Linked DNA regions of Homo sapiens. The protein of the gene in region 3 interacts with the protein of the main gene of each other region in a pairwise test. Each region holds a gene or a part of one and is shown on either strand. Other genes may lie near its edges. The genes, in order: CTAG2, GABPB2 and TSEN2.

What was found.
Region 1: the proteins of TSEN2 (region 3) and CTAG2 interact in binary tests that used the Homo sapiens proteins (3 or more experiments, as listed by UniProt).
Region 2: the proteins of TSEN2 (region 3) and GABPB2 interact in binary tests that used the Homo sapiens proteins (3 or more experiments, as listed by UniProt).

What each region holds. Positions count from the first base shown.
Region 1 is NC_000023.11:154,649,506-154,659,791, forward strand, and holds CTAG2 (cancer/testis antigen 2), read right to left. Parts: upstream 4,075-10,286; 5' UTR 4,011-4,074; coding exon 3,742-4,010; intron 3,127-3,741; coding exon 2,992-3,126; coding exon of another isoform or gene 2,763-2,991; coding exon 2,624-2,762; 3' UTR 2,472-2,623; downstream 1-2,471.
Region 2 is NC_000001.11:151,113,075-151,124,331, reverse strand, and holds part of GABPB2 (GA-binding protein subunit beta-2), read right to left. Parts: intron 6,941-11,257; coding exon 6,816-6,940; intron 6,376-6,815; coding exon 6,076-6,375; 3' UTR 146-6,075; coding exon of another isoform or gene 17-145; 3' UTR 1-16. UniProt on the Homo sapiens protein: May function as transcription factor capable of interacting with purine rich repeats (GA repeats).
Region 3 is NC_000003.12:12,499,493-12,510,749, forward strand, and holds part of TSEN2 (tRNA-splicing endonuclease subunit Sen2), read left to right. Parts: intron 1-2,175; coding exon of another isoform or gene 2,176-2,232; intron 2,233-3,769; coding exon 3,770-4,292; intron 4,293-5,661; coding exon 5,662-5,739; intron 5,740-7,215; exon of another isoform or gene 7,216-7,343; intron 7,344-11,257.

The DNA.
Region 1 (10,286 bases), on a different chromosome or scaffold from region 3:
GCTCCAATTAAGGAAGGGCCGCCCTCTGGAGACAGGCCCCGGGTCACTCCGGGGGTCTCCCTGCAGCGCCTGTGGTGTTGCTCCCAGACTCAGTGGGCCAGCAGGTCCCTACCTGACAGTTACTGTGCTCCTGGATCTTCATCTTTGCTCCCTGGGCTTCTGCTTTTGTGCCCGTGATGTTGGCTGCAGGGGCCAGTGGCTCAGCACCTGGTCAAAGTTGTCTGGATGCAGTTACAGCTGCAATGCAGCTGGACTTCTGAGTCAGCCCGGCCAGGGTCGCGGCCCTGGGGCATGGTGACCTCTCCCGGTGCTGCTTCCCCTGGGGCACGGTGACCTTGCTGGGGCGGGCACATGCTGGACTCGTGGCCAGGTTTGCCCGGGCCTCCCCGTTTCACCAGGAGTCAAACTCCTCTAACCGCGTGTGACGACCACTCTGCATGTTTGAGAGGACGGAAGTTAAGTGGACTCTTCAGACTTGACTTGGAATTCTGGAATATGAGGGCTAGAGGGAAGCATTAGGGACCTCTTCACCTGAGGCTGGGGTGTGTTCTGCCACAGCCCTGACCCATGCTCCCACCAGCTGTGACAGAGCCCTCAAGGGCTGGAGCGCTCACTGGCTCCCAAGGAATCCCGCTGGCATGACAGGAAGGTCTCTCTGACATTGCTGCTGGTCTTTCAGTTTTCCTTTGCGCACCTCGGGCTGAAACAGAGCGAGTTCACTGCGTCCCTGCATTCCAGGAAGCTCCCCAGGTCTCAGCGTCCTCTCTCAGCTTCCATCCGTCCCTGGCCTTGACAGAGAGCCGGGCCTCTCCTAACACACCACCGATCCAGAGGAGAAGGAAGCCGCTCACACCCTCCGGGGCAGGCATGCGGAGGTGGCATTCGCCTGGCTTCCTGCTGGGACTTCCTCACAGCGTGCCCACGTCTCTTGGAAAAACTCCTCTGCTCTGAGACAGAACCGGCTTTGGCACAGCCTGGATGTACCAACCCCCCTCGCCTTCCTCAGTTGTGCAGTGATTTGTTCAGCCTTTCCGCAGCTGGTGGACATTTACATTCTAAAAACTATTTACGTGGTGGTGTCATTAAGATGCTGGTGGATTCTACCTCATTTGCATATCCAGGAGTTTCTCAGATGGATTCCTCAAGGTGGGTGGAAGGGAATGTACATCTTTCCCTTAATAGAAAATGCCAAATAAATGTCCAGATAGATGTTACTACCACTCCTACTGACAGTGTATGAGTCCTCGTTTCCAACTACAGCCTTGCCAAGCATTGGAGATTGTCAACTAATATTATTAATCTTACATTAAAATCTGCTATGTTCCCACCGAGCAAATGCTAAAACAAAACTCAAAGGGATCAAGTTGTCTCCGAGCAACTTAAGAGCATCCCAGAACACAGCTCAAGCATATGTCTGTTTTGCTTTGACAAACAGCCCCTTTCCAACCTAGCTCTGCCCAAGATGGTGCCAGCGTGACCTCCCGGCAGACAAGACACCTCAGCATGTCATGCAGACCCCACAGCTGCCTGCTCCCTCCCCTGCCTACCATTCACGCCAAGTCCTCCTTTAAAAGGCCCTGCTTTCTGCCCCCAATGGGAAGCAGTGCTCTTAAAGGCAGGAGCCTGTACGTCTTCCCCTAAACCAAGCATGGCAGAAAGTCAGTTTCTTTACAGGAAACCTTGCTCTTGTTCATTAGACTCTGCAAGCAGTAAGAGAATCTGTGTTAACATTACGTGTTTACAAACATTTTACGCTGTTCACATTTACTATTATTATTACTTTAGAGTCAGGGTCTCGCTCTGTCGCCAAGGCTGGAGCTCAGGGATGCATTCATAGCTCACTGCAGCCTCGAGATCCTGGACTCAAGCCACTTTCCCACGTCAGCCTCCTGAGTACCTGGGACTACAGGTTCCTGCCACCACTCCCTCCACCCCTAATTTTTAAATGATTCTTATAGAGATAGAATCTCACTACATTGCCCAGGGTGGCCTCCAACTGCAGGTCTCAAGCCATCCTCCCACCTGAGCCTCCCAGAACAATGGGAATACAGGTGTGGGCCACCATGCCCGGCCCATATCACATGTTTAACAGTGAAATAATGCTGGTTTTATGCATCTATTCAAGTACATGTTTTTGAAGCATTTTTAGAAAGCACAAAAGCTCATATGTTCAATGAAAACAATTTGGGAAAAAATTTAATGCTGACCTGGAAAAACATTATATATGCTACTGTCATATATTTAACATATAAATGCAAGTATATTGAGGAAAATATTCTAAAATGTCCACAGTAGTTAATGCTGAATGGCGGGACCCAGTGGCTTTTCATTTTCCCCCATTTCCCAAATTGCCTCCCGTTACCTTGTGCTACTTCAATCTGTGAATCCCAGAGCCTCCCCTACAACCCGAGGACAAGGGCATGCAAGTCCGAAGGTGCCTTCGCTCGCCGAAAAGAGACTCAGACACGGAATCGTAGCTCAGCTTTATTTTCTACAGAAACAAACATGTAAGCCGTCCTCCTCCAGCGACAAACAATCAGGCCCCCACAATGAACTGGCCACTCGTGCTGGGACCATTCCCTAGGGGAGGAGGCATGACCTAGGAAGGGGCGCCAGGCTGGGCTTAGCGCCTCTGCCCTGAGGGAGCCTGAGCCAAAAACACGGGCAGAAAGCACTGCGTGATCCACATCAACAGGGAAAGCTGCTGGAGACAGGAGCTGATGGAGAGCTGCAGTTGGCGGTGGTCTGCAGCAGTCAGTCGGCTAAATGTGAGGGGCAGAGAACATCACATTAAAGGCGACACCTCTGCACCCATCTCCCTGGGCTCCCTCGGGTGGCGGCGGGCCTGGTGTACCAGGTCTCTGTTCTGAGACCTTGTGTTTGGGTGTTCTGAGATCTCTAGCTTTCTGCCCCTCCGGGGAGGCGGATCCCAGCCCCCAACCCACCACCCTCATCCGCCCAGCGCCTTCCCTGTCCTGGTCCCGAACTGACATAAACAGTAGGTTGCCGGACACGGTGAAGTCCTTCAGAACCGCCCCTGGTCGGGGGAGCGGTGCGGCATCCCGGGACAGGATCCTGCGGACCAGCTCCGCTTCCATGGGCGACGAGAAAGGCATCGTGATGTGCCTGGTGGGGACCCAGTTAAGGTGCCATCTCCTAGGATTTGGCCGGTGCCCATCTCATCCCCTCAGGCTGTCTCCCCACGCACTGGCCCAGGTCCTGCAGCAACCCCACCCAGCTGTCTTGATTCCCCACTTTCCTCTGTTGCACCTCAAGCTGACTCCTGCGTGCCCTTCCAAGGCCCTCCCCACCATGCCCCCTGCCGCATCAGCCGGGACCTCTCCCCATCGCTTGACACCACCCCCATCCAGCCCACACCCCAGCCACCGGCTCCCACCTTGCACGCTTCCCCCCAACTCCTGATCCCTTCACACACCCAAGAACCCCTGTCTCCTGTCCCCCTGCCCCTCACCCCATCGCCCAGCACCCAACTGTGCACACGCTCCACCTCCCATCCCCTACCTACTCCCTTCCTCTGAGCCACCCCTCGACCTCCAACTCCCAGCCCCCACCCCCACCCCACCCGGCGCCTTACCCCCATCTCCCAAACCCCACCTTCCGCACCTGGCCCTGCCCTCACCCACCTCCTGGCCCTGCCCCCCACCTCTTGACCCTGTTGTCTCCGTCTCACGGCCCCCACCTCGCCACCAGAACCTCCTAGAACAGAACAGAACAGGATACAACTCAAGCAGGCGGCTGTCCGGCCTCCTGGCCCCGCAGGGGCACCTTCCATCCTGCGCAGAAGCGGCACCGCCATGCGGACCCCGCGGGGCGCCTCCTCTCGGCCCCGAGGCCCTTGCTGCCCCTGCGCCCCGGGGACCTCTGCCGCCCGTGGCACCCGCCTCTCCTGGGCCGCCAGCATTGCCCCCTGGGCCATCAGGAATGCCAGGGCCTCCTGGGCCATCAGCATCGCCCGTCGAACCCCCTGTGCCCCGGCCTTCGGCCTGCATGGCTCCGGAGCCTCTGCCCGGCTCTCAGAGAGAAGGTCAGGGCCCACGAGGATGCGGAGGCAGAGAGGCTGCAGGAAGTTCCGCCCCCTGGCGTGAGATGGGCAGCCCGGGATCCTCAGGGCGCCTGCGCACAGGGGCCCTACTTCCGGCCCTGGGAGACCCCGAGTGAGCCCCGGAGCACGTGACCGGTTCTCACCAACCCCGCCCCTCCCCAAGAGAGCCCGGGCCGGAAGGTGGCCGCAATGCCAGCTTGGACCCCTCACCCCTGAGCAGCCGGCTGTCCGCCGGACCCCTGTCCCGGGAGCCCTGCAGGGAGTCAGGCACTGCGGGGCCCAGCCTGTCCCATCCCCCGGGTCTCCCTCACATCGAGGAGCAAGACGGGCCTGGGAACACGGGGCCGGGACTGTGCGGCCATCGTCCCGGACCCTGTCTGCCCTGTCCGTCCTTGGGGGAGCGCCCAGGACAGACCCCGGGGGGCAGGCCTCTAACTGGGCTCAGCAGCCTCCGTCCCTGTCCTGGTCGCCCAGCTGGTGGGGTAGCTGGAACTGCATGTCTGGTGGGCGTGGCCTCGCGCCAGCCAAGGTCTCCCAGGCGCCAGGTCCAGCCAAGGTGGACGGGAGGGCCCAGCGGGACCCGGGGCCGGATCTCACTCCTGGGTTCAACGGGTTCTGTCCCTGTCCTAGTCGCCCCGCCTGGTGGGGGAGCTGGAGCTGCGTGTGGGGTGGGTTGCGGGTGGCCTCCCACCAGCCAGGGGCTCCCGGGCTCTAGGCCTGGCCCAGGTGGACAGGCGGGACCTGCTGGACCTGAGGCTGGGTCGGGCCTGGCTCCTGGGTTCGGCAGTATCAGTCCCTGCCCTGGTCGCTCTTGCCTGGTAGGGAGCTGGGAGGTGACCCTGTGTCTGCTGGGTGCTGGCTTACTTCTGTGTCTGGAAGGGGGTCAGATCCACAGGAAAGGTGCTGCGAGAGGCGGGCAGGGGTGGGGGTGGCATGGCCCTAGGAGCTGGGTGTCTGTCCCCACGCCCTGTTCACAAGTCTGTGGGGCGAGAGGCTGCAATACTCCATCCCGGGTGTCTGGGCTGCTCACCAGGCCGGCTCAGGCTTCCCACATCCTGTACCCTGGGTTGGGCATGAAACCGATCCAATCGTCCCATAGGCTGTTCTTTTTGATACACATAGAAACTGACCCTTCTGGTCTTCAAGCTTGAACCTTACAGTTGTTTTATCTGAATTCCTTCCTCAGGAAATGACCTTCGGGCCTCTCAAAATATCAAAGAACTGAAACTCACCAGATAACCACATCCAGACAATGAGATGCTGGACCCCCCAAATTCATCAGGATTGCTTTCTGGGCCCTCCCGAGTTCCTGTTTTCCTACACATTGGTGCATTTCTTCCTGGCTATATAAACCCCTAGTTTTAGTCAGGGGGATGGATTTGAGACTTAACTCCCATCTCCCCGGCTGCAGCACCCAATTAAAGCCGTCTTCCCTGGTAATGCTCTTCGTCTCAGTCAGTCATTGGCTTTCTGTGCGGCCAGCAGCAGGACGTAGACCAAACCCTTGGTATTTCGGTAACAGGCACACCCCCAGGAAGGGACCCCGGACACGGCTACCACCTCTAGGCTTAAAGCGAATGCACTTCCCGCATCTCCAGTCTTCCGTGTAGCAGCTTTAACCTATGTATGTCTGTGCCACATCCAGTCCTCAGACGGCTGAGTGACCCCAAGAAAGGCTTCCCCGACACCCAGACAGAGGCTGCAGGGCTGGGGCTGGGTGAGGGTGGCGGGCCTGCGGGGACATTCTACTGTGCTAAAAAGCCACTGCAGACATAGCAATAAAAACATGTCATTTTCCAAAGCAGGCTCCTGCTTCTGCCTCTGCTGCTCTAAGAAGGGGTCAGGGTGCAGGAGGCAGGGGGAACCTCCTCCAGCTGGAGCTGCTGCGGTGAGCAAGGCTCTGCTCTGGAGGCCTCTGAGGCTGGCACCCTTCTGGGGACTGGGAAGGGGGCAGGGAAGGCAGCAGCCCAGGGAAAGCCTCGTCCCCCTGGAGCCGAGGCAGTTGGGGAGAGCAGGACGAGAGTGAGCTGGAGAGCAGCCACACCGATGGGTAAGGGTGGGTGAAGGGATTCCACAGGTGTCTAGAAAACTGGAAAGAGCTCCTTAGCAGGTCCAGGCCCCAGGTGTAGGGGAGGACCAGATGTGGAGGATGAAGACGGTTGTCCAGAGGGATCTCCAGGCGTTGGCATTATTGGGTCCTACTGAGATGCTGTCAAGGAGAAAACACAGGCTGTGTGTGGCAGGGCGACAAATGAGTGCTGCTGCCAAGCTCTGTCCTGTTTTCTGTGCACGTCTCAGAGCCCCTCCAGTGACCGTCATCTCCGGCCTCCTCCTGCGCCTCTGTGTTCGTAGACATCTTCTCACATCTCAGATCCTGCTGAGCCTCTGGGCCCCCTGCACGTGCCTTCTGCCTCTCGGCTGCTGGGGTGGGGACCTCTGTGCCCTGTGCCAGCGCCTCTCCTGCAGCTCACAACACATCTGCTTTTTCTCCTGCGCCCTGCACAGGGTGGGCCTGGAAGCTCTGGGGAAGTTGTACCCTTGGACACAGCCCCCCACCGATGGGGCCAAGAGTCACTGGATAAAAGTCTTAGTCTCTCACCCTTTGAAGGACAACTCTGAGGTGCGGCTGACTGTGGAGCGAATGAAATGAAACGGATGCACGGGGATGGGTGTGGACAAAGGAATGCCGACTTCTCAGGCTGCCGATACATATCTCAGTAGAAGCACGGGGGAATGCTATATAGAGAAATATTTCTATAGTATCTGAAGTGTTTAGAATGTATTGACCTAATATATACACAATAAAAGTAAAAACATTGGAAGAAAATTTAGATGAACTTTATTTGATTGTTGGAATGGAAAAGACTTTTCTCTCTTTCTTTCTTTCTTTCTCTCCTTTTCTTTCTTTCTTTCTTTTCTTTCCTTTTTTTCATTATTATACCTTAAGTGCTGGGGTACATGTGCACAACGTGCAGGTTTGTTACATAGGTATACATGTGCCATGCTGGTTTGCTGCACCCATCAACTTGTTGACCTAGCAATCCCATTACTGGGTATATACCCAAAGGATTGTAAATCATTCTACTATAAAGACACATGCACATGTATGTTTATTGCAGCACTCTTCACAATAGCAAAGACTTGGAACCAACCCAAATGCCCATCAATGTTAGACTGGATTTTAAAACTGTGGCACATATACACCATGAAATATATGCAGCCATGAAAGAGAATGAGTTCATGTCGTTTGCAGAGACATGGATGAAGCTGGAAACCATCATTTTCAGCAAATTAACACAGGAACAGAAAACCAAACACCGCATGTTCTCACTCGTAAGTGGGAGTTGAACAATGTGGACACAGGGAGGGGAACATCACACACCGGGGCCTGTTGGGGGTGGGGGGCTGGGGGAGGGATAGCATTGGAAAAGACTTTTCTAAGCCTACTAGCAATGAGAATAATAATAACCAATAACATTTGTTGGGTGGTCACCATGTCCCAAGCCACTGTTGTAAGCACTAGACAAGAATTGGCTCATTTATCCAGAAATACACCACATTTTCATTGTCGTTATCCTTGGCGGTGAGATAACGGTTGGTTTTTTATTTTCTCTTCCGAACTTGCCCATATTTCCTCTTCTTTTGCAGTGAACATGTATTACATTTATAAGCAGAAAGCGATTAAGAAAGTTATTCATTACTTGCTGTTGAGGAAAATTTCTAATTAGCTCTGGAGTGAGCCAGTTTGCCAAAGTTTAAATTAGCCTGTTCAATTCATTGGAGGCCATATTTTTCCTCTGAAACTTGTTCTAATTGGCACCTTTTCTTGATGTAATGAGGCGGACGGTGCCGTGATGAAGTCTCTGAAGTCACCGAGCCTCGGGGCCCACGCTAGACACCACGGGGCAGATGTCGCCCGGCTCTCCTGGTCATCTCTGTGGCTTTCAGCCGCTTCCAAAAAACAATTGTTTCCAAATTCCACACACACAGTTCATCCTACCTTGAAAGTTATTCCTCCAGAGGGCTGTTGATAGTTTGCTTCATCAGCATTTTGTCACTATTACACACTGAGATTTTTTTTTTCTTCTGCACCTTGGAGGTACTCATGAAGAACACATGTGTGCTTAAACACAAAACCTACCGAGGCCCATAACAGCCCCTCCCCTCCAGAGGGCCGGTCCTGGTCCACACACGCTGGCAGACAGTCTTTGTGTTTCCGAATCAGAGAAGACTTGCTTGGAATGGATGAAATGTATTTGAAATCACATTAGGCATCATCTGGAATGGTGAAGCTTCAGAGGTGACAGGGCCAGGATGTCTATATTCAAAGAGGGCCATTGAATTAAAGTTAAGCAGGGATCTCTTTGCTTGAATTCCAGAGTTTCAAACCAGCACAGTCATGTGAGCTTGGATGGCCTGTAGGTACTTCCAACCCAACCTGCCCCCAGCTGACCTCACTGCCTGTCCCCCGACTCCCGGAATGGCTTCCCTCTGCTTCATTCTCTGTCTTGGCGACACGCGTTTCCATGGTCCCGCACTCTGTCATCTCACCTTCCGTCCAGTCAGTTTCCTTCAATGTGTCCTCTCCACCCTCCCTAGGCCAGGTCGGCATCATCTCTCACCTATATGATGAGAACAATCTCCCCCGGTCTACACAGATTCCCGGCCCCTTTCCTAGGAATTTGGCCTGAGTGGGGCGGTCTAAGTGGGGATGATGTAGGCTGGCCTCATATGGCCCAGGGGGAGGGCCCAGCCATACCTACCAGGGCTGATGAGCACGGCTTGTTTCGCCCTGTGGGGGTCATTGCAGGCTCTTGTGCGGGACTCGGGATGGGGGTCTGTTGGGAAGCCCCGGATGGCCTAGTGTCCTGGCCTTGAGCCTTTGGTCTTCTCTGAGCGCCCACCCGCCATCACTTGAGAACAGTGAAAGGCAGCTGTGTTGACCCTTTGAGCAGCATGTGGCCGTTCCTAGGTTTGGTGGTAGGGGTGAGTGACCCTTTCCTGTGAAGGAATGGCGAGTAACCATTGTATGACAGTGAATTGTCTTAGTGCCTAATAGCCCAGCCTACTTTGTGAGCTCCATAAAGGCAGGAAGCTTGTCTGGAGCTTTTCTGTATCCCCAGTGCCAAACCCCATAATGGGGAGACACGAGGTACTCTCTCATTCTTTCTTTCAAGAAATATTTCCTGGCCGGTGCGGTGGCTCATGCCTGTCATCCCAGCATGCTGGGGAAGATGGGGTTTAGCATGTGAGTGAGGACCACACATAGCACAGAGAGCACCCAGTCGCCCAAGCCAGAGTATGCAGAGTTGGGAAGGATGTAGCAGGGGACTGAAGTGACGTAGAAAAGACCGATCATAGTGAGATGGGCAACACAGGTAGAAAAGGCTTTTCTTCAGCCCTGGGTGGAATGAATCCTGAACAGCAGCCACAACGTGTCCATAGGAGACCACGACCAGGACGCAGTGTGCAAGAGCCACCAGAAAACTGAAGAACAGGGCAAGTTCATTGGTACGTGTGCTGAAGCAAGAGAGTCTGAGCAGTGACGGAGGTCGCAGAAGAAGTGGGTGATGAGGCAAGGCCTGCAGAACTTGGGTAGAGCTGTGAGGATGCTGTAGGTGAATGCGTTGGCCAAGGCCAGCAGGCAGGAGATGGAAGTGAGGCCCGTGTGGGTCAGTCGGCCCACGAGGACAAAGTAGTGCAATGGCTGGCAGATAGCTGCATAGAATCATAGGCCACGGCTGTGAGGAGGAAGGACTCCTAGGGTGCCAGGAAGTGGAGAAAGCATATCTGGATGAGACAAGCACAATAAAGTACGGGCCCTACCTGAGCCAGCAAATGCACCAGCACCTGAGTCACCATGTTGGAGATACAGGCGGCATCCATCAGCGAGTGGCCGCCCAAGAAGAAGTACATGGGAGTGTGGCGTCGGTAGTCCACTGTGAACATGTGGCTCCCAACCACAACCACTATGTAGATTAGCAGAAAGGTGGTGAACAGCAGGGGCCTCCAAGCCTTGCTGTCCCTCAGGCCTTTCAGAAGAAACTGGGACACTAGGGTCCCATTCCGCAGCTGCTTGGAACCACGCACAGAACCCTGCACCTGTAGTATGCAACTCAGAGTCAGATGAGGGTCTAGGTGTGGAGTCCCAACTTACAAGGGGGGGAGGGGATGAGGGATGGACTAATGACTAGGTAGGCAGGTTTCAGATTTAATGGAGGAA
Region 2 (11,257 bases), on a different chromosome or scaffold from region 3:
ACTAAAAATACAAAAATTAGCGCGTGCCTGTAATCCCAGCTACTTCAGAGGCTGAGGCAGAAGAATCGCTTGAACCCGGGAGACAGAGGTTGCAATGAGCCAAGATCATGCCACTGCGCTCCAGCCTGGGTGACAGAGAGAGACTCTGTTTAAAAAAAAAAAAAGAAAAGAAAAAAGAAAAAAAAATCATTTCTCAAACTGATATTTCTTTTTTTCCTTTTTCTTTCTTTTTTTTTTTTTTGTGAGCCACCGCGCCCGGCCTCTTTTTTTTTTTTTTTTTTCTCACCAGTATGATGATGCGCCACCACCCCCGGCTAATTTTTGTATTTTTAGTAGAGACTGAGTTTCACCACGCTGGCCTGGCCTCAAGTGATCCTCCCATCTCGGCCTCCCAAAGTGCTGGGATTACAGGCGTGAGCCACCATGTCTGGCCAGCAGCTTTACTTATTTTATTTTATTTTATTTTATTTTATTTTTTGAGACCGAGTCTCATTCTGTTGCCCAGGCGATCTGTTGCAGTGGGGCGATCTCAGCTCACTGCAAGCTCTGCCTCCTGGGTTCACGTCATTCTCCTGCCTCAGCCTCCCGAGTAGCTGGGACTACAGGCACCCACCACCACGCCCGGCTAATTTTTTGTATTTTTAGTAGGGCCAGGGTTTCACTGTGTTAGCCAGGATGGTCTCAATCTCCTGACCTCGTGATCCACCTGCCTTGGCCTCCCAAAGTGCTGAGGTTACAGGCGTGAGCCACTGTGCCCGGCCAGCAGCTTTATTTTAAAGTAGACAACCATCCTAAGCTCGAAGTTTCTCTTGCTCAAGCACCAATTCTGATCCATTTGTCTGTTTTTTCTTTCTTTCCTTCTTTTTTTTTTTTTTTTGAGACAGAGTCTCGCTCTATTGCCCAGGCTGGAGTGCAGTGGCACAATCTCAGCTCACTGTAAACTCCACCTTTTGGGTTCAAGCAATTCTCCTGTTTCAGCCTCCAGAGTAGCTGGGACTACAGGCGTATGCCATCATGCCCAACTAATTTTTGTATTTTGGTAGAGACAGGGTTTTGCCATGTCGGCCAGGCTGGTCTCGAACTCCTCACCTCAAGTGATCTACCCACCTCAGCCTCTCAAAGTGCTGGGATTACAGGCGTGAGCCACCGTGCCCAGCCATTTTTGTCTGCTATTTGATTCTTAATAATCCAACCTTGCCAATAAACAGTTGGAATCCTCTAACCCAGAAGATCTAAGCAATATTTCCCCAACTTCCATGACTAATCCAGAAAGATATGCAAAGTCATGAAATGGTATTGCCATTAATGTATTCAATATTTAATTTCTAACTACTTCAAAGCATCCTCACCTGCCATTCTCTCCATGGCAATACAATTGGAGATCAAATCCTATTTCCCTTATCTGGGATGCCAAGAGGACCGTTCCGAGTAAATAAAAATCAATGCCTTTTTCTTACTTATTTTCAGATACCTCCATTCTCTCCCTCTCTACCCTAGCCTCTCCTCTAACAAACTGCCCTATCTCAGAGACCCATCATAAAAAATGACTTGGCCTGTATTAGAGATTTTGGGGGTTGGGGAGGTAGGAATGATAGCTTCTGCAGAAAGAACAATAAGATCTGCTAAAGAATTCCCCCAAAAAAGTGGTGACTGTATAGTCAGAAGGGCATGTTGGATGGACATTCTCTGCCTTTAGTCAGTAGCCACCCCAGAGAGTGAGCTGGTTGGGCCTGAATATCATCTGCAGAGTTAACCTCCTTCCCCTTAATGGGCGAGGTGTGGGGGAAGAGGGATTAAAGTCAACATATGCACCGAGAACATAAATAAAAGATATCTAAAATGATACTTGGTTCCTCTATCGTTAAAGTAAGGCTCCGAAATCCCACACATAACAGCTTCTTGTTAGCACCTGGTTCCCAAAGGGACTCAGAAAAAATAAAAACATTGCAAACAGGAAAAGATTATTTGACAGCAGATAGAACAATTTCATCATCACCCTTACCTAGGCTACTCCCCCTCACATTTTCCTGTCATCCCCAACAGCCCAGAATATTCTCCAATCATCTGGGAAGTGTTAAGTACTCAGATCTGTGGAGAAAACAGATCTGTGGAGAAAACCTAGCTAAGGTGGCCAGTAGCCAAGGTTAATTTCCAAACTGATATTTTTGCCTATAAATCTCTAATAACCAATTCTGTTTGTTAAATTTGGTTTGGGGAGTTAAATTTTCAGTCTATTTTGAGACCCAAGTGATTCTGCTCCTCTGTAACACTGCAGCAAATTACTTCACTAATCAAGGTAAACAGAACCATGTTAACTGTCAGGTTTTTTCCAAATTAAAAATGCATGTTTTCCCCATGACTGCTAATTAAGAAAACCATATTCTAAACAGTCATTCGAATGTTTACTTGGCACATCTCCCTCTGGTTTCTTCTAATTTATAACAAAGCAAGCAAGTCTAGAATGATGAGGGCCCAGTTTCAAAGGCAATAACCTCTGTAACATAACCTGTTCATAACCTCTCTCTCTCCATCCATATTCCCTTTCTTTGGGAAAAACTCCATGCTGACATACAAAGAAAACCCAGCAGGTAGGTGGTCAGGCGCAGTGGCTCACGCCTATAATCCCAGCACTTTGGGAGGTCGAGACAGGTGGATCACCTGAGGTCAGGAGTTCAAGACCAGCCCGACTAACATGGAGAAACCCCATCTCTACTAAAAATACAAAATTAGCCAGGCATTGTGGCGCATGCCTGTAGTCCCAGCTACTCGGGAGGCTGAGGCAGGAGAATCACTTGAACCCAGGAGGTAGAGGTTGCGGTGAGCCAAGATCACGCCATTGCACTCCAGCCTGGGCAACAAGAGTGAAACTCCGTCTCAAAAAAAAAAAGAAAAAGAAAAAGAAAACCCAGCAGTTAAACACTTTCCAAAAGTGTCTGGGCAGAGGAAGTGTAGGCATAGTGGGAGAGAAAGGAAGAAGACAAAGTAGCCAGAATCTTTGGTTCTTTATGGCACTGACAGTTCTTATTCCCTTTGTCAACACACACTGAGCACCCTATAAGGCACAAAGCTCTGTAACAGACCCAAGCTTAAGGAAACAGAGCAATTTACTCATGCCAGATCAAAAGGAAATAAAACTAAACAACATCATCAGCATTTACCTCCGACCCCCTTTTTGTTGCACATAAGAGGATAAGATATAAGCTCCACAGAAAAGCACAATATGTCCTAAATGACACTTAGAAAATTCAACAAAGTTTTATAAAATTAGAGTCTAGGCTGTGCGCGGGGTGGCTCACGCCTGTAATCTCAGCATTTTGGGAGGCCAAGGCGGGTGGATCACCTGAGGCCAGGAGTTCCAGACCAGCCTGACCAACATAGAGAAACCCTGTCTCTACTGAATATACAAAATTAGCCGGGCGTGGTGGCGCGTGCCTGTAATCCCAGCTACTCGGGAGGCTGAGGCAGGAGAATAGCTTGAAACCGGGAGGTGGAAGTTGCGGTGAGTTGAGATCACACCATTGCACTCCAGCCTGGGCAACAAGAGCAAGACTCCGTCTCAAAAAAAAAAAAAAAAAAAAGAGAGACTGAGCTTGACATTACATAAATGTTTGGAAACAAGTTTTTCTGACAAGAGACTACCCTCCTCACTGTAATTTTATGAAATCCAGTCAGAGCAAAGTTTATATGTCAAGACCAGAGTTTCATAGCCCCTATAAGCCTTTTTCTGGCCACTTCCCAGCACTGTGGAAACACAGCCTGGATTTTGGTTTTATATATACTCCTCCCACATAAACAAGTTTTCTTTCTTTTCTATTTTTTTTTTAATTGAGTTTCACTCTTGTTGCCCAGGTTGGAGTGCAATGGTGCCATCTCGGCTCATTGCAACTGCCGCCTCCCGGGTTCAAGCGATTCTCCTGCCTCAGCCTCCTGAGTAGCTGGGATTACAGGCATGTGCCACCACACCCAGCTAATTTTGTTTTGTTTTGTTTGTTTGAGACAGAGTCTCACTCTATCGCCCAGGCTGGAGTGCAGTGGCATGATCTTGGATCACTGCAACCTCTGTCACCTGGGTTCAAGTGATTCTACCGCCTCAGCCTCCCGAGTAGCTGGGATTCCAGGTGCCTGCCACCTCGCCAGGTGAATTTTTGTATTTTTAGTAGGGTTTCACCATCTCGGCCAGGCTGGTCTTGAACTCCTGACCTCATGATCCACCCACCTCAGCCTCCCAAAGTGCTGGGATTACAGGCATGAGCTGCCGGGTCTGGCCCTAATTTTGTATTTTTAGTAGAGACAGGGTTTCTCCATGTTGGTCAGGCTGGTCTGGAACTCCTGGCCTCAGGTGATCCGCTCGCCTCGGCTTTCCAGTTCAGTTTTTAAAAACTCTATTTCAATTTCCTTTTTTTTTTTTTTTGAGACAGAGTCTGGCTCTGTTGCCCAGGCTGGAGTGTAATGGTGCGATCTCAGCTCACTGCAACCTCCGCCTCCCGGGTTCAAGCGATTCTCCTGCCTCAGCCTCCCAAGTAGCTGGGATTACAGGCAGGTGCCACCACGCCCGGCTAATTTTTTGTATTTTTGTTTGTTTGTTTTGTTTTTTTGAGACAGAGTCTCACTGTGTCGCCAGGCTGGAGTGCAGTGGCACGATCTTGGCTCACTGCAACCTCCACCTCCCAGGTTCAAGCAATTCTCCTGCCTCAGCCTCCCAAGTAACTGGGACTACAGGCGTGTGCCACTATGCCTGGGTAATTTTTGTATTTTTAGTAGAGACGGGGTGTCACCATGTTGGCCAGGATGATCTTAATCTCTTGACCTTGTGATCCGCCTGCCTCTGCCTCCGAAAGTGCTGGGATTACAGGCGTGAGCCGCTGCGCCCGGCCAATTTTTTGTATTTTTAGTAGAGATGGAGTTTCACCGTGTTAGCCAGGATGTTCTTGATCTGACCTCGTGATCCGCCCGCCTCGGCCTCCCAAAGTGTTGGGATTACAGGCGTGAGCCACCACGCCTGGCCTAGTTTCCTTTTTCCTTTGAGATACAGTCTTGCTCTGTCACTCAAGCCTGGAGAGCAGTGGTGCAACCATGGCTCACTGCAGTTTTGACCTCCAAGGCACAAGCGATCCTCCCACCTCAGCCTCCTGAGTAGCTGGAACCATAGGTGCCTGTCACCATACTTGGCTAATTTTTAAATTTTTTGTAGACACAGGTTTCTATGTTGCCCAGGCGCATCTCAAACTCCTGGACTCAAGCAATTCTCCCATTTCAACGTCCCAAAGTGTTGGGATTACAGGTGTGAGCCACCACACGCAGCTTATTTCAGTTTCTTACACAAGCATCTGAACTATAGACACATAATGGATAAGTATCTGTCAGACAATCAAAAATTTCTTCTCAGTGATGTGGTGGCATATGCCTGTCCTCCCAGCTACTCAGGAGGCTGCGCCCTGGAGGCGGAGGTTGCAGTGAGCCAAGATTGCACCACTGTACTCTAGCCTGGGTGACAGAGTCAGACCGTGTCTCAAAAAAAAAAAAAAAAAGGGAAAATTCTCTTCAGTGAAATTAACTTAAGGTTGGGAGTTCCTGCTCCTTTGGAAATGGACTATATTCCTTTTCTCTTCCCCAAAGCTTGTCTAACTTCCCTTCCAATTGGTTTTTCCAACAGATACGCATCATAAATCTAAGGGGCATTTTCAGGTCACTTGATGGTATAATTATTAAAGGCATATATATTGGTGCATATATATTAGAAATGTTATCTTAAAATCTTTTGTGAGAAAGTCAGTTATTTAAAAAAAAAAAATCAACCCACAACATGCAGTATTCTTTTACTTCTATGTTTAAAGCAATGATATGAGCTAAGAAATTTGGTCCTTTATTCTTTTGGCCCCTCAGAAAAAATGTTCCCTAAATATGGCTTTGAATTTTCTAGTTGCACAGAGAAACTTCCTGAGCCCAAGCATTGTACCCTGCTATAGTTTTCTTCTTAAAGACACTCTTAGTTTTTATACAATGTTTGTCTTCTGTATATTTCCTTTTTTAAAAGAGGATTAATATGAACACAGTGCAAATTGTGGCCCTTGCATATTAAGATGAAACAGTTGCCATGGAAACTCTAGTGTGAGGCTCTGTGGTCCCTGCTGACCCAGTCACTTTTGTCTCTCTCTCTTCCAACTCCCCCTCTGTGACTACTACAGCATCTACCTCAGCCACCTCTTCAACCATGGTGAAATCAACTCCATTGGGCTGCTGTCGGGCTATGGCCTCCAGCTTAAGACGGTACTGTTCTGCTTCCTGCTCTTTCTTTAGGAGCTGGTGTCGGTATTCCTGGGCTCTTCGATTGGCCTCCTGGAGTTGTTGCTGTAGTAGCTCTCTTTCATTGCCTTCCTGTAAAAGTAAGCCATGTCACCACCAGGTAAATTCCTGATCATAAATTATCCAGACAGTAGACAAAAAGACAGGCCAGGAGCGGTGCCTCACACCTATAATCCAAGCACTTTGGGAGGCAGAGGTAGGCAGATTATCTGAGGTCAAGAGTTCGAGACCAACTTGGCCAACATGGCAAAACCCTGTCTCTACTAAAAATACAAAAATTAGCCAGGCATGGTGGCAGGTGCCTGTAATCCCAGCTACTCAGGAGGCTGAGGCATGAGAATCACTTGAGCCCGGGAGGCGGAGGTTGCAGTGAGCTGAGATCATGCCACTGTACTCCAGCCTGGGCAACACAGCAAGACTCCGTCTCAAAAAGAAAAAAGAAAAGATGAAGAAGGGTTCAGGCCTTAATAATTAAGGCTTTAAATTCTTTTCATCACTCCTAAAAACATTACCTTGCTTTCCTCCACACTGTTTGTCTTCTCTCCTATCCTTGGTTTCTTTGTTAGTGGCAACTTCTCTTCTTCTTCCTCTTTAATTACAGTCTCCTCTGCAACCTTACCAGCAGGTACAGTTAGAACTACAAGTCAAAGGACACCAATTGGAGGTGATGAATGCATAATAAAACAAAGAGGTTTTGCTTGCTTTTAATTAGAAAATAAACTAAAATATATTCTAGGTTGGGTACAGTGGTGTGTGCCTGTGGTCCTAGCTACTCAGGCAGCTGACTGGAGGACTTCTTGAATCCAGGAGTTCAAGACTAGCCTAGACAACACAGCAAGACCCCATCTCAACAAAAAAGCAAAGAAAGAGAAAGTAAAATATATTCCTTGATATATTATTTTTAATATCTCTTTGAATTTTCGAATCAACAGGTAAGGCATGGCCCTTCAGGGAGAAACAAAAAGGATTAATAGAGCACTGAGAATGGCTCAAAAAGGAAGGGTATAGATTTGCAGGCTTGGAAGCCATGCAAGTAAGTCCCAAGTCTGAAGCTCTTATATGAAGGTGTCTGACTCTAGGTCACCTATGGCCAATTAGCTTATCAATCCGCCCAGAAATGGCAGGGCAAGGTGGCTCACACCTATAATTCTAGCATGTTGGGAGGCTAAGGTGGGAGGATCACTTGAGCCCAGGAGTTCAAGACCAGCTTGGGCAACATGGCAAACACTGTCTCCGCAAAAAAAATACAAAAAATTAGCCAGGCATGGTGGAGCATGCCTGTAATTCCAGCTACTTGGGAGGCTGAAGTGGGAGGATCACCTGAGCCTGGGAAGTTGAGGCCGTAGTGAGCCAAGAACTCGCGACTGCACTCCAGCCTGGGTGACAGAATGAGACCCTGTCTTAAAACAAACAAACAAACAAAAAAAACTGCAGAAATAATCTGTCAAAAGAAGGCCTGAAGTCTTTATATATTTTTGAGACCTCTAATAAAAGCCAATAGCCATTATCTGTACCTAAATTAATTCTCTTCTCATAGATAAGTGAGAGAAGAGTCAACACACACACAACACACATGACACACTACACATCTGTCAGAATGGCTAAAAGTTGTTTTTTTTTTTTTTTTGAGATGGAATTTTGCTCTCGTTGCCCAGACTGGAGTGCAATGGCGTGATCTCTGGAGTGCAATGGCTAACTGCAACCTCCGCTTCCCAGGTTCAAGTGATCTCCTGCCTCAGCCTCCCAAATAGCTGGGATTACAGGCATGCCCCACTACACCCGGCTAATTCTGTATTTTTAGTAGAGACAGGGTTTCTCCGTGTTGGTCAGTCTGGTCTCAAACTCCCGACCTCACGTGATCCACCTGCCTTGGCCTCCCAAAGTGCTGGGATTACAGGCGTGAGCTACCACACCCGGCCTTTTTTTATCGAGAAGTCTCACTCTGTAACCTAGGCTGGAGTGCAGTGGCACAATCTCAGCTCACTGCAACCCCCACCTCCTGGGTTCAAGCAATTCTCCTGCCTCAGCCTCCTGAGTAGCTGGGACTACAGGTGCATGCCATCACACACAGTTAATTTTTGTATTTTTAATAGAGATGAGGTTTCTCCATGTTAGCCAGACTGGTCTCAAACTCCTGACCTCAGATATTCCACCTGCCTTGGCCTCCCAAAGTACTGGGATTACAAGTGTGAGCCACTGTGCCGGGCTAAAAGTTTTTTAAAAAGTGATGATACCAAATGCTGGAGAGGATGTAGACATACTGGATTATTCATAAATTGCTGGTGGGAATGTAAAATGGTACAGCCGCTCTAGAAAATAGTTTGGCAGGATGGGCGCAGTGGCTCATGCCCTGTAATCCCAGCACTTTGGGGGGTCGAGGCAGGCAGACTGCCTGAGCTCAGGAGTTTGAGACCAGCCTGGCCAACATGGTGAAACCCCATCTCTACAAAAAATACAAAAATCAGCCGGGTGTGGTGGCACCTGCCTGTAATCCCAGCTACTCGGGAGGCTGAGGCAGGACAATCACTTGAACCTGGTATGCGGAGGTTGCTGTTAGCTGAGATAGTGCCACTGCACTCCAGCTTGGGTGACAGAGTGAGACTCCATTTGAAAAAAAAAAAAAAAAGAAAATAGTTTGCCAGTTTCTTTCTTTCTTTCCTTCCTTCTTTTGAGACGGAGTTTCATTCTTATTATTCAGGCTGGAGTGCAATGGCGCGATCTCGGCTCACCGCAACCTCTGCCCCCAGTTCAAGCGATTCTCCTGCCTCAGTCTCCTGAGTAGCTGGGATTACAGGCATGTGCCACCACACTCGGCTAATTTTGTATTTTTAGTAGAGATGGGGTTTCTCCATGTTGGTCATGCTAGTCTCAAACTCCCGACCTCAGGTGATCCGCCCAAGTTTGGCAGTTTCTTAAAAAACAAAACAAAACACACACTTACCTTATGACCCAGCAATTGTACTCTCGGGCATTTATCCCAGAGAATAGAAAATTTATTTCCTACTTGTTTTTTTCTTGAGACGGAGTCTGGCTCCACCCAGGCCGGATTGGAGTGCAGTGCAATGATGCTGGCTCACTGCAACCTCCACCTCCCAGGTTCAAGTGATTCTCCTACCTCAGCCTCCCGAGTAGCTGGGATTACAGGTGCCTGCCACCACGCCTGACTAATTTTTGTACTTTTAGTAGAGATGGGGTTTTGCCATGTTGGGCAGGCTGGTCTCAAACTCCTGATCTCAGGTGATTCACCCACCTTTGCCTCCCAAAGTGCTGGGATTATAGGCTTGAGCCACCATGCCTGGCCTATTTCTCATTTGTTTTCTTTTCTTTTCTTTTGAGACAGAGTCTCGCTCTGTCTCCAGGTGGAGTACAGTGGCACAATCTCGGCTCACTGCAACCTCCACCTCCTGGGTTCAAGAGATTCTCCTGCCTCAGCCTCCCGAGTATCTGGGACTATAGGCATATGCCACCACACCCAGATAATTTTTGTATTTTTAGTAGAGATGTGGTTTCACCATATTGGCCAGGATGGTCTCGATCTCTTGACCTTGTGATCCGTCCACCTCGGCCTCCCAAAGTGTGTGAGCCACTGAGCCCGGCCCTATTTCCCATTTTTTTATTTCCCATAAGAACCTGTAAACAATTATGGTGTTCATAATGCTTTATTTATTTATTTATTTATTTATTATGAGACAGAGTCTCACTCTGTTACCCAGGTTGGTGTGCAGTGGCAGAATTATGTCTCACTGCAGCCTCAACCTCCTGGCCTCCAGTGACCCTCCCAAGTAGCTGGGACTACAGGCACACAAAAGCACGCCTGGCTAATATATTTTTTTTTTTGTATTTTTTTTTAGAGATGGGTTTCGTCATATCGTCCAGGCTGATTTCAAACTCCTGGGCTTAAGCTATCTGCCGGCGTAGTCCTCCCAAAGTGCTGGGATTATAGGCATGAGCCACTGTGCCCAGCCAGTTTTATTTTTAGATAGCTGAAACTGGAAGCAGCTTAAATGTCCTTCACTGGGTAAATGGTTAAACAAACTGTGGTACATCCATATCATGGAATAATCTCAGCAATAAGAAGGAATGAAATATTGATTCAAACAACAACTTGGATGGGTATCAAGGGAATTATGCTGAAAGGAAAAAAGCCAATCTCAAAATCATGTATACTGTATGATTCCACTTATATAACATTATTGAAATGACAAAGTAGAGGATGGGCACGGTGGCTCATGCCTGTAATCCCAGCACTTTGGGAGGCCAAGGTGGGCGGATCACCTGAGGTCAGGAGTTCGAGACCAGCTTGGCCAACATGGCAAAACCCTGTCTCTACCAAAAATACAAAAAATTAGGTGGGCATGGTGGCATGTGCCTGTAATCCCAGCAATAGATTTCTCTGTATTATTTCTTAGAACTGTACTGAATCTTTAATGATCTAAAAATAAAAAGTTAAAAATTATATTTACGTTTTAGGATATATTATGATTATTTTAAAACAGAAGATTTGGCCAGACACGGTAGCTCATGCCTGTAATCACAGCATTTTTTTTTTTTTTTTTTTTGCAGTTGGAGTCTCCCTCTGTTGCCCAGGTTGGAGTGCAGTGGCACGATCTCTGCTCACTGCAAGCTCCGCCTCCGGGGTTCACCCCATTCTCCTGACTCAGCCTCCGGAGTAGCAGGGACTACAGGTGCACGCCACCAGGCCTGGCTAATTTTTTTGTATTTTTAGTAGAGACAGGGTTTCACCGCGTTAGCCAGGATGGTCTCGATCTCCTGACCTCATGATCTGTCCACCTCGGCCTCCCAAAGTGCTGGGATTACAGGTGTGAGCCACCGCACCCGGCCAATCACAGCATTTTGGGAGGCCAAAGTGGGAGGAAAGCTTGAGTCTAGGAGTCTGAGACCAGCCTGGGAAGCTTAGCAAGACCTCATTTCTATTAAAAAAAAAAATTGAGGG
Region 3 (11,257 bases):
GACTGCTCTGGCAGTGCCATTCCCAGTCTCTGAGCTTGCCTGCATTACCTCCTTTCATCTTCTCAAGAAACCTTCGAGGGTAGGTACTAGAGATGTTTCTGTTTCGTAGATGGGGACTCAGGGGAGGCTTCAGTAGCTTGCCCAAGATTACGTGGGCTCAGCGCCAGAGCCTGGGAGACATTGATATGGGTGTGCACACCAGCACTCCCTGAGCACCTTCCAGTGCTAAGTATCGTGCCAGTGATGGGCCTGTGTGTCATCTCAGGTCCTCACATCACTGCCATGAGGTGGGTCCTGTTCTTATCCATCTTCCACAATTGGAAGAACTGAACACAGGGAAGTGAAGCTCCTTGCTCAGGGTCAGTATGTGGACTTAGGCACTGTGGCCCCAGAACCTATGTGCGCTAACCACTCTAAACCACTCTGCTGTGCACTTCCAGTGATAAAGGGGCATTCATCAGTACAACAATAGGGAACGGTGCCCTGTGCAAATGGGAGAGGTGTGTGTTCAAGGGTGCAGAAACATGAGAAGCCTTGGCGTGTTCTGATGGGCACGTCCTGTGTCCTTGCGGTCCTGGATGGTGCTGCTTTCCCCAGTCCTGTCACTGCTTCCAGTCGTGGCTGCTGCCTCATCCTTCTGCCACGCTCCCCCTTAACACTTTCTGCATTTTACTTCTCATTTCTCTTCCTGCAACTGCTCCAGCATCTGGGATTGATGGCAACAGGACTTGGCTTTTTAAGGTGTTGCCAGCCAGCTAGAGGACGCCTTCAGCTCTGACCCATGTGTCGTTGTCTTAGTCATTTGTTTGTGTGGCTCTTTTCATCATATCTGACTTGGAGGCTTTCTTCTACATGCTCTTCGAGCCTCAGTCTCCTTTGACTTTTCATAGCGATCCTCTGAGACCCTGAAAAGGGAACACAGGTATGGCCTGGTTCTGGTATGTGACAGAAGGCACAGAGGTAGAAGTGCTAAGTGGCTTAGCTCAGAGCCACACGGAAGAGCCAACTCCAGGACCTAGACCTCCAGAGGCTGCGTTCATCCCTGCACTGCTGCCTCTGCTCTCAACAGCAAATTAAGACATTTCCATTCATTAACATCTTTTTCAAGATACCATATATTGAGTCTGATTTATTTTTCAAGCCACTCCTAAAAACTCCACAATGATATAGTAGTATTGATTGAACACTTCTTATGGGCTATGCACTTTACGTGTCTTATTTAATTCTTGCTGCAACCCCAGGAGGTAGGTGCAGTTATCCCTGGTTTGTAGATGGTCACTGAGCCTTAGAGAGGTGGGGTCATATAGCTGGTATGAGAACGTGATGGAGCAAGGATTGGAACCCACGTCTGCTTTGACTGCTCTGCTGCAAAGAGCAGAGCAGTGCCCTCTGTGTGCTCACTTCACTCCAGATCTTCTGGTCAAAGGAGGAACTATTGACCCTTTAAATCAGTGGTTCTGTCACGTGTTTTGAGTCACGGAATTTGGCAAAAGTTTTGGGTCCCTTCCCCAGAAAAATATATTGTCACAAAAATTTGTGTTCAAATAAAGGAAATTTATAGACCCTGTAGAGCCAATGCTTATGTTGATATGAAGAGCTAAGATTCTTTTTAGACCCCTCACATGAAAGTTCTTTTAAACGTATGCATAGGTGGCCATGTTCCAGGTGAGAAGACACCCTGCAGGTTGTGGCACAGCTATGTTCTTTTTGCTGGTTTTAAAAGTAATACATAACAAGATCCCTTTGAGGTGGTAGTACTCATCTCCACATTTTATAGGTGGGAAAATTGAAGCACGGAGAAGTTAAGTAATTTGCATTGCCACACAGTTATAAGTAACAGGGCTGGACACAAAATGTGCCATACCAAAGTCACGGTGCCGTACTGACTCTCAGGTATTAGGGTAGCCTTACCAGGTGTTAATCTTTAGGATACAATTCCCAGTATATAGGGAGGCATCCCTGATGTTCATCCTCATGTGGGGTGAACAGGGTATAGACAGCTTTGGGATTCTTAGGAATCAGGGTTAAGCAACCACTAGTCTCTTTTTAGGTACAGCAGAAGCCAATGTCCTTGTTGAACTGTGTGAGATATAGCAGTTTGTAAACTATGACATATTCAGTCTTTTTTTTTTTCTTTTGGAACATTTCACAAATTTGCGTGTCATCTTTGCACAGGGGCCATTCTAAGTATATGTGCTGCCGCATCGAGCACTGTTCAGTCTTCTTAACCAGGTAAAAGAAGGTGAAAAGTAAAGTTACATCTGCCTTCTCACAAGCCACGTGTTGTCTTGGATGCCTTTCAGACTAATCACTGAAGGTCGAGGCAAAAAGCACTTGAGTTTCACAATGTCTTTGACCTTCTGATCAGATTTCCAACATCTGGTAGTTCTCACATCACATGAACACATCCCAACAGCCTAGGCATGAATGCTTTGCCCTATTGTTTTGCCTATAATTTTTTGTAACTTGGGAAGTGTTTTGTAACTTGGGTGTTAGCTTCAAGTTTTAGAAACTTAACAAGAATTTTATCAATAAAATCTACTCTGCAAAGTATTGTGAGGAAAAGGGCCATTTCTGTTAGAATATGTGGATGAATCTACATAAGCCAAATCATTTCTCTCCTTATCCTGTGAAAGGGTTAGTAGGCACTGTGATGAATATTTATTGAAATTCTCATTTTGCTTTCCAATGCTAAACAAGTTATTTGTATTATGAATGGCATATCTATCTGAAAACATTATGAGATCCAAAATTGAAAATAATACAAAACAAGCTGAGAGCGGTGGCTTACACCTGTAATCCCAGCACTTTGGGAGGCCAAGGCGGTCGGATCTCTTGAGGTCAGGAGTTCAAGACCAGCCTGGCCAAAAATTTGTGTTCAAAAATACAAAAAATTAGCTGGGGGTGGTGACGCAAGCCTGTCATCCTAGCTACTCGGGAGGCTGAGGCAGAAGAATCGCTTGAACCCGGGAGGCAGAGGTTACAGTGAGCCGAAATCGTGCCACTGCACTCCAGCCTGGGTGACAGAGCAAGACTCCATCTCAAAAAATAACAACAATAATACAAAAAAAAAATCTTGATAAAGGATGGCCATTTTCTTGTTTATTTACCTAAATCACTTAATCTATCAGTTTTAAATTAGATAAATTTTCATAGTTTGTTAAACTGGGGGTTAGTTTTTTTTGTTTTTTTTTTTGTTTTTTTTTTTTCAAATAAAGCAAATAAAATGAAACTATATTGTAAAAGCAAAGAAACAAGAAGTAACATATGCTTGTTGCAGAACACTTAGAAAATGCAGAGGCCACACGCGGTGGCTCACACCTGTAATCCCAGCACTTTGGGAGGCCAAGGCGGGCGGATCGTGAGGTCAGGAGATCGAGACCATCCTGGCCAATATAGTGAAACCCCATCTCTACTAAAAATACAAAAATTAGCCAGGTGTGTTAGCAGATGCCTATAGTCCCAGCTACTTGGAGGCTGAGGCACAAGAATTGCTTGAACCCAGGAGGTGGAGGTTGCAGTGAACCAAGATCACACCACTGCACTCCAGCCTGGCAACAGAGCAAGACTCCATCTCAAAAAAATAAAAAAAGAAAGAAAAGAAAATGCAGAAAAGTATAAAGAAGAAAAATATTTATCTATAATGCACCATTCAATAATACTGCTGTAAACATTTTGGTGTGTCACCTTCCAGTCTGTTTTATGTGCTTTGTTGTTTTTTCAATTTTGAAATTCGAGTGCTGTTTCTAACAGTATTTCTGTCTTGCAGGTATCAGCATAGTGTTGAGTGGGCAGCAGAGCTGATGCGTAGACAGGGGCAGGATGAGAGTACAGTGCGCAGAATCCTCAAGGATTACACGAAACCGCTTGAGCATCCTCCTGTGAAAAGGAATGAAGAGGCTCAAGTGCATGACAAGCTTAACTCTGGAATGGTTTCCAACATGGAAGGCACAGCAGGGGGAGAGAGACCTTCTGTGGTAAACGGGGACTCTGGAAAGTCAGGTGGTGTGGGTGATCCCCGTGAGCCATTAGGCTGCCTGCAGGAGGGCTCTGGCTGCCACCCAACAACAGAGAGCTTTGAGAAAAGCGTGCGAGAGGATGCCTCACCTCTGCCCCATGTCTGTTGCTGCAAACAAGATGCTCTCATCCTCCAGCGTGGCCTTCATCATGAAGACGGCAGCCAGCACATCGGCCTCCTGCATCCTGGGGACAGAGGGCCTGACCATGAGTACGTGCTGGTCGAGGAAGCGGAGTGTGCCATGAGCGAGAGGGAGGCTGCCCCAAATGAGGAAGTAAGTAGAAGAAAATAAATCGCTTCCTCCAAAGCCATCCGTTCCTGGAGATGTTGGCTAATAGGGATGTCTTTTGCCTGCAGCTGGTAGCTGGCCTGTTGTAGGGTCCAAGGGAAGCAGCAGGCTTTGGGCCACAGCAGCTGTGAGGGCCATTTCAACTAAAACCCCAGAGTTGGTGAATAACTTTTAAAAAAATTTATAAAATTAAGACAAGGCCAGTGGTATTCTCTCCTTTATTTGGGAGAAAACAAAATGCGGTGATAATTACACCTGATCTTGAGTACAGCTGAGCAAGAAGGGCTCACGTGTGGAAGTCAGCCATCTTGAGAAAAGCCTAGGGAGGCCAGGTAAGAGCTACGTCATGAAGGGACTTGCTGTCAGAGTTACCCTAGAGCTGTCTGGAATTGCTAAAAATTAGAAACAATCTAATTGCTAAATGGGATATGAGATACCCATTCAAAGAAATATCATGTAGACTTAGAATGAGGTTTATGAAGTCATATTAAGAACATAGGAGCCAGGTGCAGTGGCTCACACCTGTAATCCCAGCACTTTGGGAGGACGAGGCAGGAGGATCACTTGAGGCCAGGAGCTCAAGACCAGCCAGGGCAATATAGCAAGACCTCATTTCTACTAAAAACAAAAATAAATTGCTGGGTGTGGTGGTACATGCCAGTAGTCCCAGCTACTCAAGAGGCTAAGGTGGGAGGATTTCTTGAGCCTGGGAGATCAAGGCTGGGCAACAGTGAGACACTGTCTCAAAAAAACAAAAACATAGGCACATGCTTATTAGGTACAATTGGGTGAAAAAAGCAACACGTAAAATAAAATTCACCAACAAAATGATTACAACTGCAGGAAAAATTCACAGGGGAAAAAGGAAATAAATGAGAATCTTCATAGTGAAAAAGTTAAAACTTCCTTTTCCACACAAGTAATAAAAAAGCACTTCTTGGCCAAGCGTGGTGCCTCACACCTGTAATCAACACTTTGGGAGGCTGAAGCGGGAGGGTTGCTTGAGGCCAGGAGTTCAAGACCAGCCTGGGCAACTCTGTCTGTACAAAAAATTAGCCAGGCATGGTGGCACACGCCTGTAGTCCCAGCTACTGGGAAGGCTGAGGCAGAAGAATTGCTTGAGTCTAGGAATTTGAGGCCTCAGTGAGCTATGATCACACCACTGCACTCCAGCCTGGGCAATAGAGCAAGAGTCCGTCTCAAAAAAATTGTGTTTTAATCATTCTTTATAATATTAACACAATAGAATGTGAATCCTGGGAATTTATAAGAAAAATGTTCATTTTAAAATACATTCTCTATGACATGTAGTGCTTCCATTTGTTCTGTATATATTGTATTTCTTTCTCTTTAGTTGGTGCAAAGAAACAGGTTAATATGCAGAAGAAATCCATATAGGATCTTTGAGTATTTGCAACTCAGCCTAGAAGAGGTATGTTTTCAACATATTATTATTTCAGCCATCGGTCTCTGGGCCTGAACTACACTATATGTGAACCTACCTCACAGTGTAGTTCTGTATGTAATTCAATTATTGAATATTGTAATTCAGTATTGAAATCACTATGGGTAGCTCCCAAGTAGGCCTGCCTTTCACTCCTCAGCCTTTATTTCATCAGTTCTAAGATATGTGTTTGCAATCATTCCACAGAAGATTCGAGGGGTTTTTCTGAGTACTTCTTTTCTCATTAAGATTTTAGATTGTTAGGCCGGGTGCGGGGGCTCACACCTGTGATCCCAGCACTTTGGGAGGCCAAGGCAGGAGGATCACCTGAGGTCAGGAGTTCGAGACCAGCCTGGCCAACATGGTAAAACCCTGTCTCTACCAAAAATACAAAAATTAGAGTGATTGCTCATGCCTGTAATCCCGACTACTCAGGAGACTGAGGCAGGAGAATTGCTTGAACCCGGGAGGTGGAGGTTGCAGTAAGCCAAGATCGTGCCATTGCACTCCAGCCTGGGTGACAGAATGAAACTCTGTCTCAAAAAAAAAAAAAAAAAAAAAGGCTTTATGTTGATGGCTAGGTGTGATGGCTTATGCCTGTAGTCCAGCCACTTGTGTGGCTGACGTGGGAGGATTGCTTGAGCCCAGGAGGTCACGTCTGCAGTGAGCCACGATTGCACTACTGCGCTCCAGCTTGGGCGAAAGAGTGAGACTCTGTGTCAAACAAAAAAAAGAATAAAAAGATTTCAGATTGTTAACAGATGCTGACTGGTGATGCCGGGGGTAGGGGGGTGGAAAGAAGAAAAAAGTGGATTTCGGATTGGCTGAATATTTTGTTACTAATTTTCACTAGCTTTTTCAAAAATACTATAATTCATATACCATACAATTTATCCACTTAAAGAGTACAAGTCGCTATTGTTTGGTATATTCATGGAGTCTCTACTTTTCATATACTGTGCTACATGATTCAGATCATGTAGTGACTGCTAGTTAAGTAAATGGATTTATTTCCTTCTGCAGGATCCCTCTACTTAATGCAGTAGCTACATTCTTGAAAGTTAGCTTGGGCCTGGTGCCATGGCTCACACCTGTAATCCCAGCACTCTGGGAGGCCAAGGCAGGCAGATAGCTTGAGCCCAGGAGTTTAAGGTCAGCCTAAGCAACATGGCAAAACCCCATCTCTACAAAAAATACAAAAATTAGCCAGGTGTGGCGGTGCATGCCTGTAGTCTCAACTACTTGGGTGGCTGAGGTGGGAGGGTTGCTTGAGCCTGGGAGGTCGAGGCTTTAATGAACCGAGGTCACGCCACTGCACAAGCGAGATCCTGTTTCAAAAAAAAAAAAAAAAAGTGGCTAAAAGTGGCCTTCCATAAACTGCATCATATTGTCCCAGTGACCTGGAGTTCCTCTAACCTGTGGTCACTTTATGCTCAGACCCTCTTTTCTTGCTTATGTTGATAGTGCACACAGAAATGTCTTTTCTGCCTTTGAAGCTAGGACCGCTTCTTGGGCTCCCCTCTTCTCCAGGAGCTCTGTGATGGCTTTCTTTGATAGTTCCTGCAGTGTCCAGTGTGGTTCTTGGCATACAGGTAGGTCCCAAGAAGTGCTATGGAACACATCCATGTTGGTAATTTTATAGCTGAGACCACAGGAAAGTAATTGTGGGGGCCGGGCGCCGTGGCTCACACCTGTAATCCCAGCACTTTGGGAGGCCGAGGCGGGTGGATCACGAGGTCAGGAGATCGAGACCATCCTGGCTAACATGGTGAAACCCCATCTCTACTAAAAATACAAAAATTAGCTGGGTGTGGTGTCACACACCTGTAATCCCAGCTACTCGGGAGGCTGAGGCAGGAGAATCACTTGAACCCGGGAGGCGGAGGTTGCAGTAAGCTGAGATTGCACCACTGCACTCCAGCCTAGGTGAAAGAGTAAGACTCCGTCTCTAAAATAAAATAAAATAGAATAAACAATTCAAAATTCCTTTTCTCGGTTGCACCAGCCACGTCTCAAACACTGAACAGCCACGTGTGGCCACTGGCTACTGTATTGAACAGCAGATGCGTAGGCATTCCCAGCACTGTGGAGCGCTTTATAGCCCACATGTACCCGTTCTTAGATGTTTGGCCTGTCAGAACCTCAGATTTCTTCTCTGTAAAGTGGGGGCTATGTAACATCTTGTTCATAGGATGTTCTGGAAATTAAATAATACATGTAATTGGGTCAGGACAGTACCTGATAATATAGTAAATGCTCAATAAATGTTAGTGCCTGCTATTTTTGTCATTATTAAGTTACTTGTAAAAGCTAATTAGCAGCTTGTTGGAACCTTCTTTTTTACAATCACAAAAATGCCCATTGGGTACCTACTATGTGCCAGGCATTGGGCTAAGTGCTACCGATACTGAAATAAGTAGAATGTGACTTTGGTCTTAAAGATAGCCCAGAAATCATTACAGTTCAGTGTGATAAGCATAGTGTGGCATATGGATCTTGTCAGTATCGCTCTTCCTGTTTCCTTGGGCCCAATGCCTGACATCTATTAGGTGCGTAATACTTATTAAATGAATGAATGTACAAGATAGGGAATTTGCATCGAAGCTGGTGGAGACCATCTTGCAGGGCTGAGGTGGAAAGCTTTTGCAGTCATGATAGCTGAGGATAGTAAAGGATAAATGGGGCTTGCCACATGGACACAGGGTAGTAAAGGCTCTTCCAGATAGCTCTGCCAAAACGAATGCCAGATGGGGGAGGGTGTGTCCATGAGTCAGGGTCTGGCCTGGTCCTGGGCCAGCAGGGCACTGCAGGGGATTCCGTAGGGGAGTGGCAGTGACCAGAGCTAGCATCAGTATGGAGGGTGGGCTGGAGGCCTGGCCTGGGAGGTGGCAGCTGTAGGCGAAGGGTATTCCGTGTCAGATGCTGGGAGTTCAGCTGCACTGTTCCAGTTGACCAGCTGCTGTCTTTTATTGACAAATTTTTTAAAGGCTGCTGCTGCCTGCTGCCTCCTCTTGAACACCCCCTGATGAAAGGCAAGAGTAATAGGAGACAGGAGATGAGGTTACTCTGCCTTCTTAGAAGCTGCCTGGCACCTGAGAACATTTCAGAGATGTGTTCCAGAAGTTTTCAGGGAGCACACCGTTAAACCTAGCTCTACTTGTCTTTCTGTTTTGGCAGATTTCTTTTGAATGAATCACCTATGTTTGGTGCACTGCATGTACCCGCGGAGTGTTTCTGTGAATGTTAGTCAGGAACACAGGCAGAATGGGGTCTCACCCCTGCTGTGGTGATTCACAACAGCTCTCTTAAGGGACTCAGAGTGGTGATACACAGCTAACTTAGAAGTCTGCTCAGCGCTGACATGGGAAGCTTTTAGTCTGCAACCTTCCACAGATGTGGACATGCGGCCTTGTAGGGGTGTTTTCATGCCTTTGCCTTGACTCATTCAGAACAGAGATTTGGAAATTTTCATAGAGTAATTGAAGAGCTATAAACTGTATTTACCTCAGTTATTTCTGAGTAGTTATTTCTGAAGAGTTCTGTCTCCATCCGTCTTCTGCATCCTTCAGTGGACACGCACACACGCAAACACTCAAATGCTTTGCTCTTCAAATTTTTTATTCTTATATTTTTTAGAGACAGGGTTTCTCTCTGTTGCCCAGGCTGGAGTGCAGTGGCACCATCATAGCTCACTGAAGCCTCATACTCCTGAGCTCAAGGTATCCCACCACCTTAGCCTCCTGAGTACCTAGAATTACAGGTGCATGCTACACCATGTCTGGCTAATTTTTTAATCAAATGCTTTTTAATTAGCAAGATCCAGTGAGAAATAGATTGATTTGGGGGAGCAAATTTTTTTTTAAATGAAAGTTGATTTCACTGTAAAGTAAAAGCAGTTGCATAATGCTGTCATGAAGTTAGGGCTGTCAACTTTGGGGGTTTTTTTTGGTTTTTTTTGTTGTTGTTTTTTTTTTTGAGACAGGGTCTCGCTCTGTCACCTAGGCTGCAGTGCAGTGGCGTGATCTCAGCACACTGCAACGTCTGCCTCCCGGGTTCAAGTGATCCTCCCACCTCAGCCTCCTGGTAGCTGGAACTACAGGCATGCACCATCACACCCAGCTAATTTTTGTATTTTTAGTAGAGATGGAGTTTCGCCATGTTGGTCAGGCTACTCTCTAACTCCTGGCCTCAAGTGATCTGCCCGTCTTGGCCTCCCAAAGTGCTGAGATTATAGTCATGAGCCACCACACGCTGCCAGGCAGTCAACTTTTGAAGGTTAAGGAGCTTTAACGTTTATATTTCCCAAGTTCAAAGTAGATGTGTTTAATTTTACTGTGTGTGCTGTTGGGAAACTGATGGGAGGTGATTTAATAGGGGTGGTGCAGACCAGCTCACTCATTCCCAGCAAGATTCCCACCATGGCAGCACCCCAGTAAGGCCCTGCATTCCAGGTCTAATCCTTTGCTTGAGGGACTAAGAAGTTCGGATTTGTTAGAGCACAGAAAATGACTTGAGCTCTAGGAGCAGCATTCATGCTGAGTGTGCTCACAAGAGCCTGGGGAATAAACTAGAATGTGAGTTTATTAACATCAGCAAAGGCCCCACCACCTGCCTTTCCATATTGGCATGTTCTCTTCATGTAGAAAATTCAGATGCCGAAGGGTAATATAATTGGAAGGCTGCTTGGTGAGCACAGAGTTAGCCTGTGAGGAGTGAGCTGGATAATACAAGTGCTTAAGGATGTCAGGCTCATGTGTCCTTCTCCCCAAGGAGGTATAAACTGTTTTTTACTTGATACTGAAGATTCTAAGATTGTTGTATGACTTTCAATTAATTATTTTACTTAATGTGGTAGCATGCATTCTTTTTCTTGAAAAGCCACCATTGAATTGAGGTATATCAAAGAGCTGCTAACATCTAGACTGGAGGCAGTGTGGTGCATGCATTGGTCTGCCACCGAACCCTTGGGTCGGAGTCCCATCCTGTGCGCAGTGCGAAGACCTTGCCACCGTCACCAGACTCCCCATTTGCTGAGTTTCCTCACTCACTCTGTGTCACATTCTTTAACTGTGTTGATATCATTCAGCTGTGGCTCTGAGTTTGTTGATACATGTCGATTTCTTAGTCTAACTCCAGTTTTAGAGGCTGCCTTACTGGTACTTCTGTGTATTGTTCGTATATACTTATAAAGCTTTTAAAGTGCGTGAGAAAATTTCTCTTATTTAGAAAATAAAGACAATAGTCCCCACACAGGAGGACCAGGTGGGAATGCTTGGAAACAAAGGGACACACCAGGGTCGGGCGACAGCTCTCCTCGTGCCTGACAGCAGCAGTCTCAGTCAGATCTCGTTTACGCATCGTCTTGTGCCCGGCTCTTCCATTTTGTACCTCACCCGTTTTTCCCACATTTCTTTTCCCGTGCTTAGTGTCCATAATATGGATTCCAAGTATCAGAATCTGGTGATTAGAATGTCTAAGATTCTTCCCTAGAATTTTGTGGTTATTT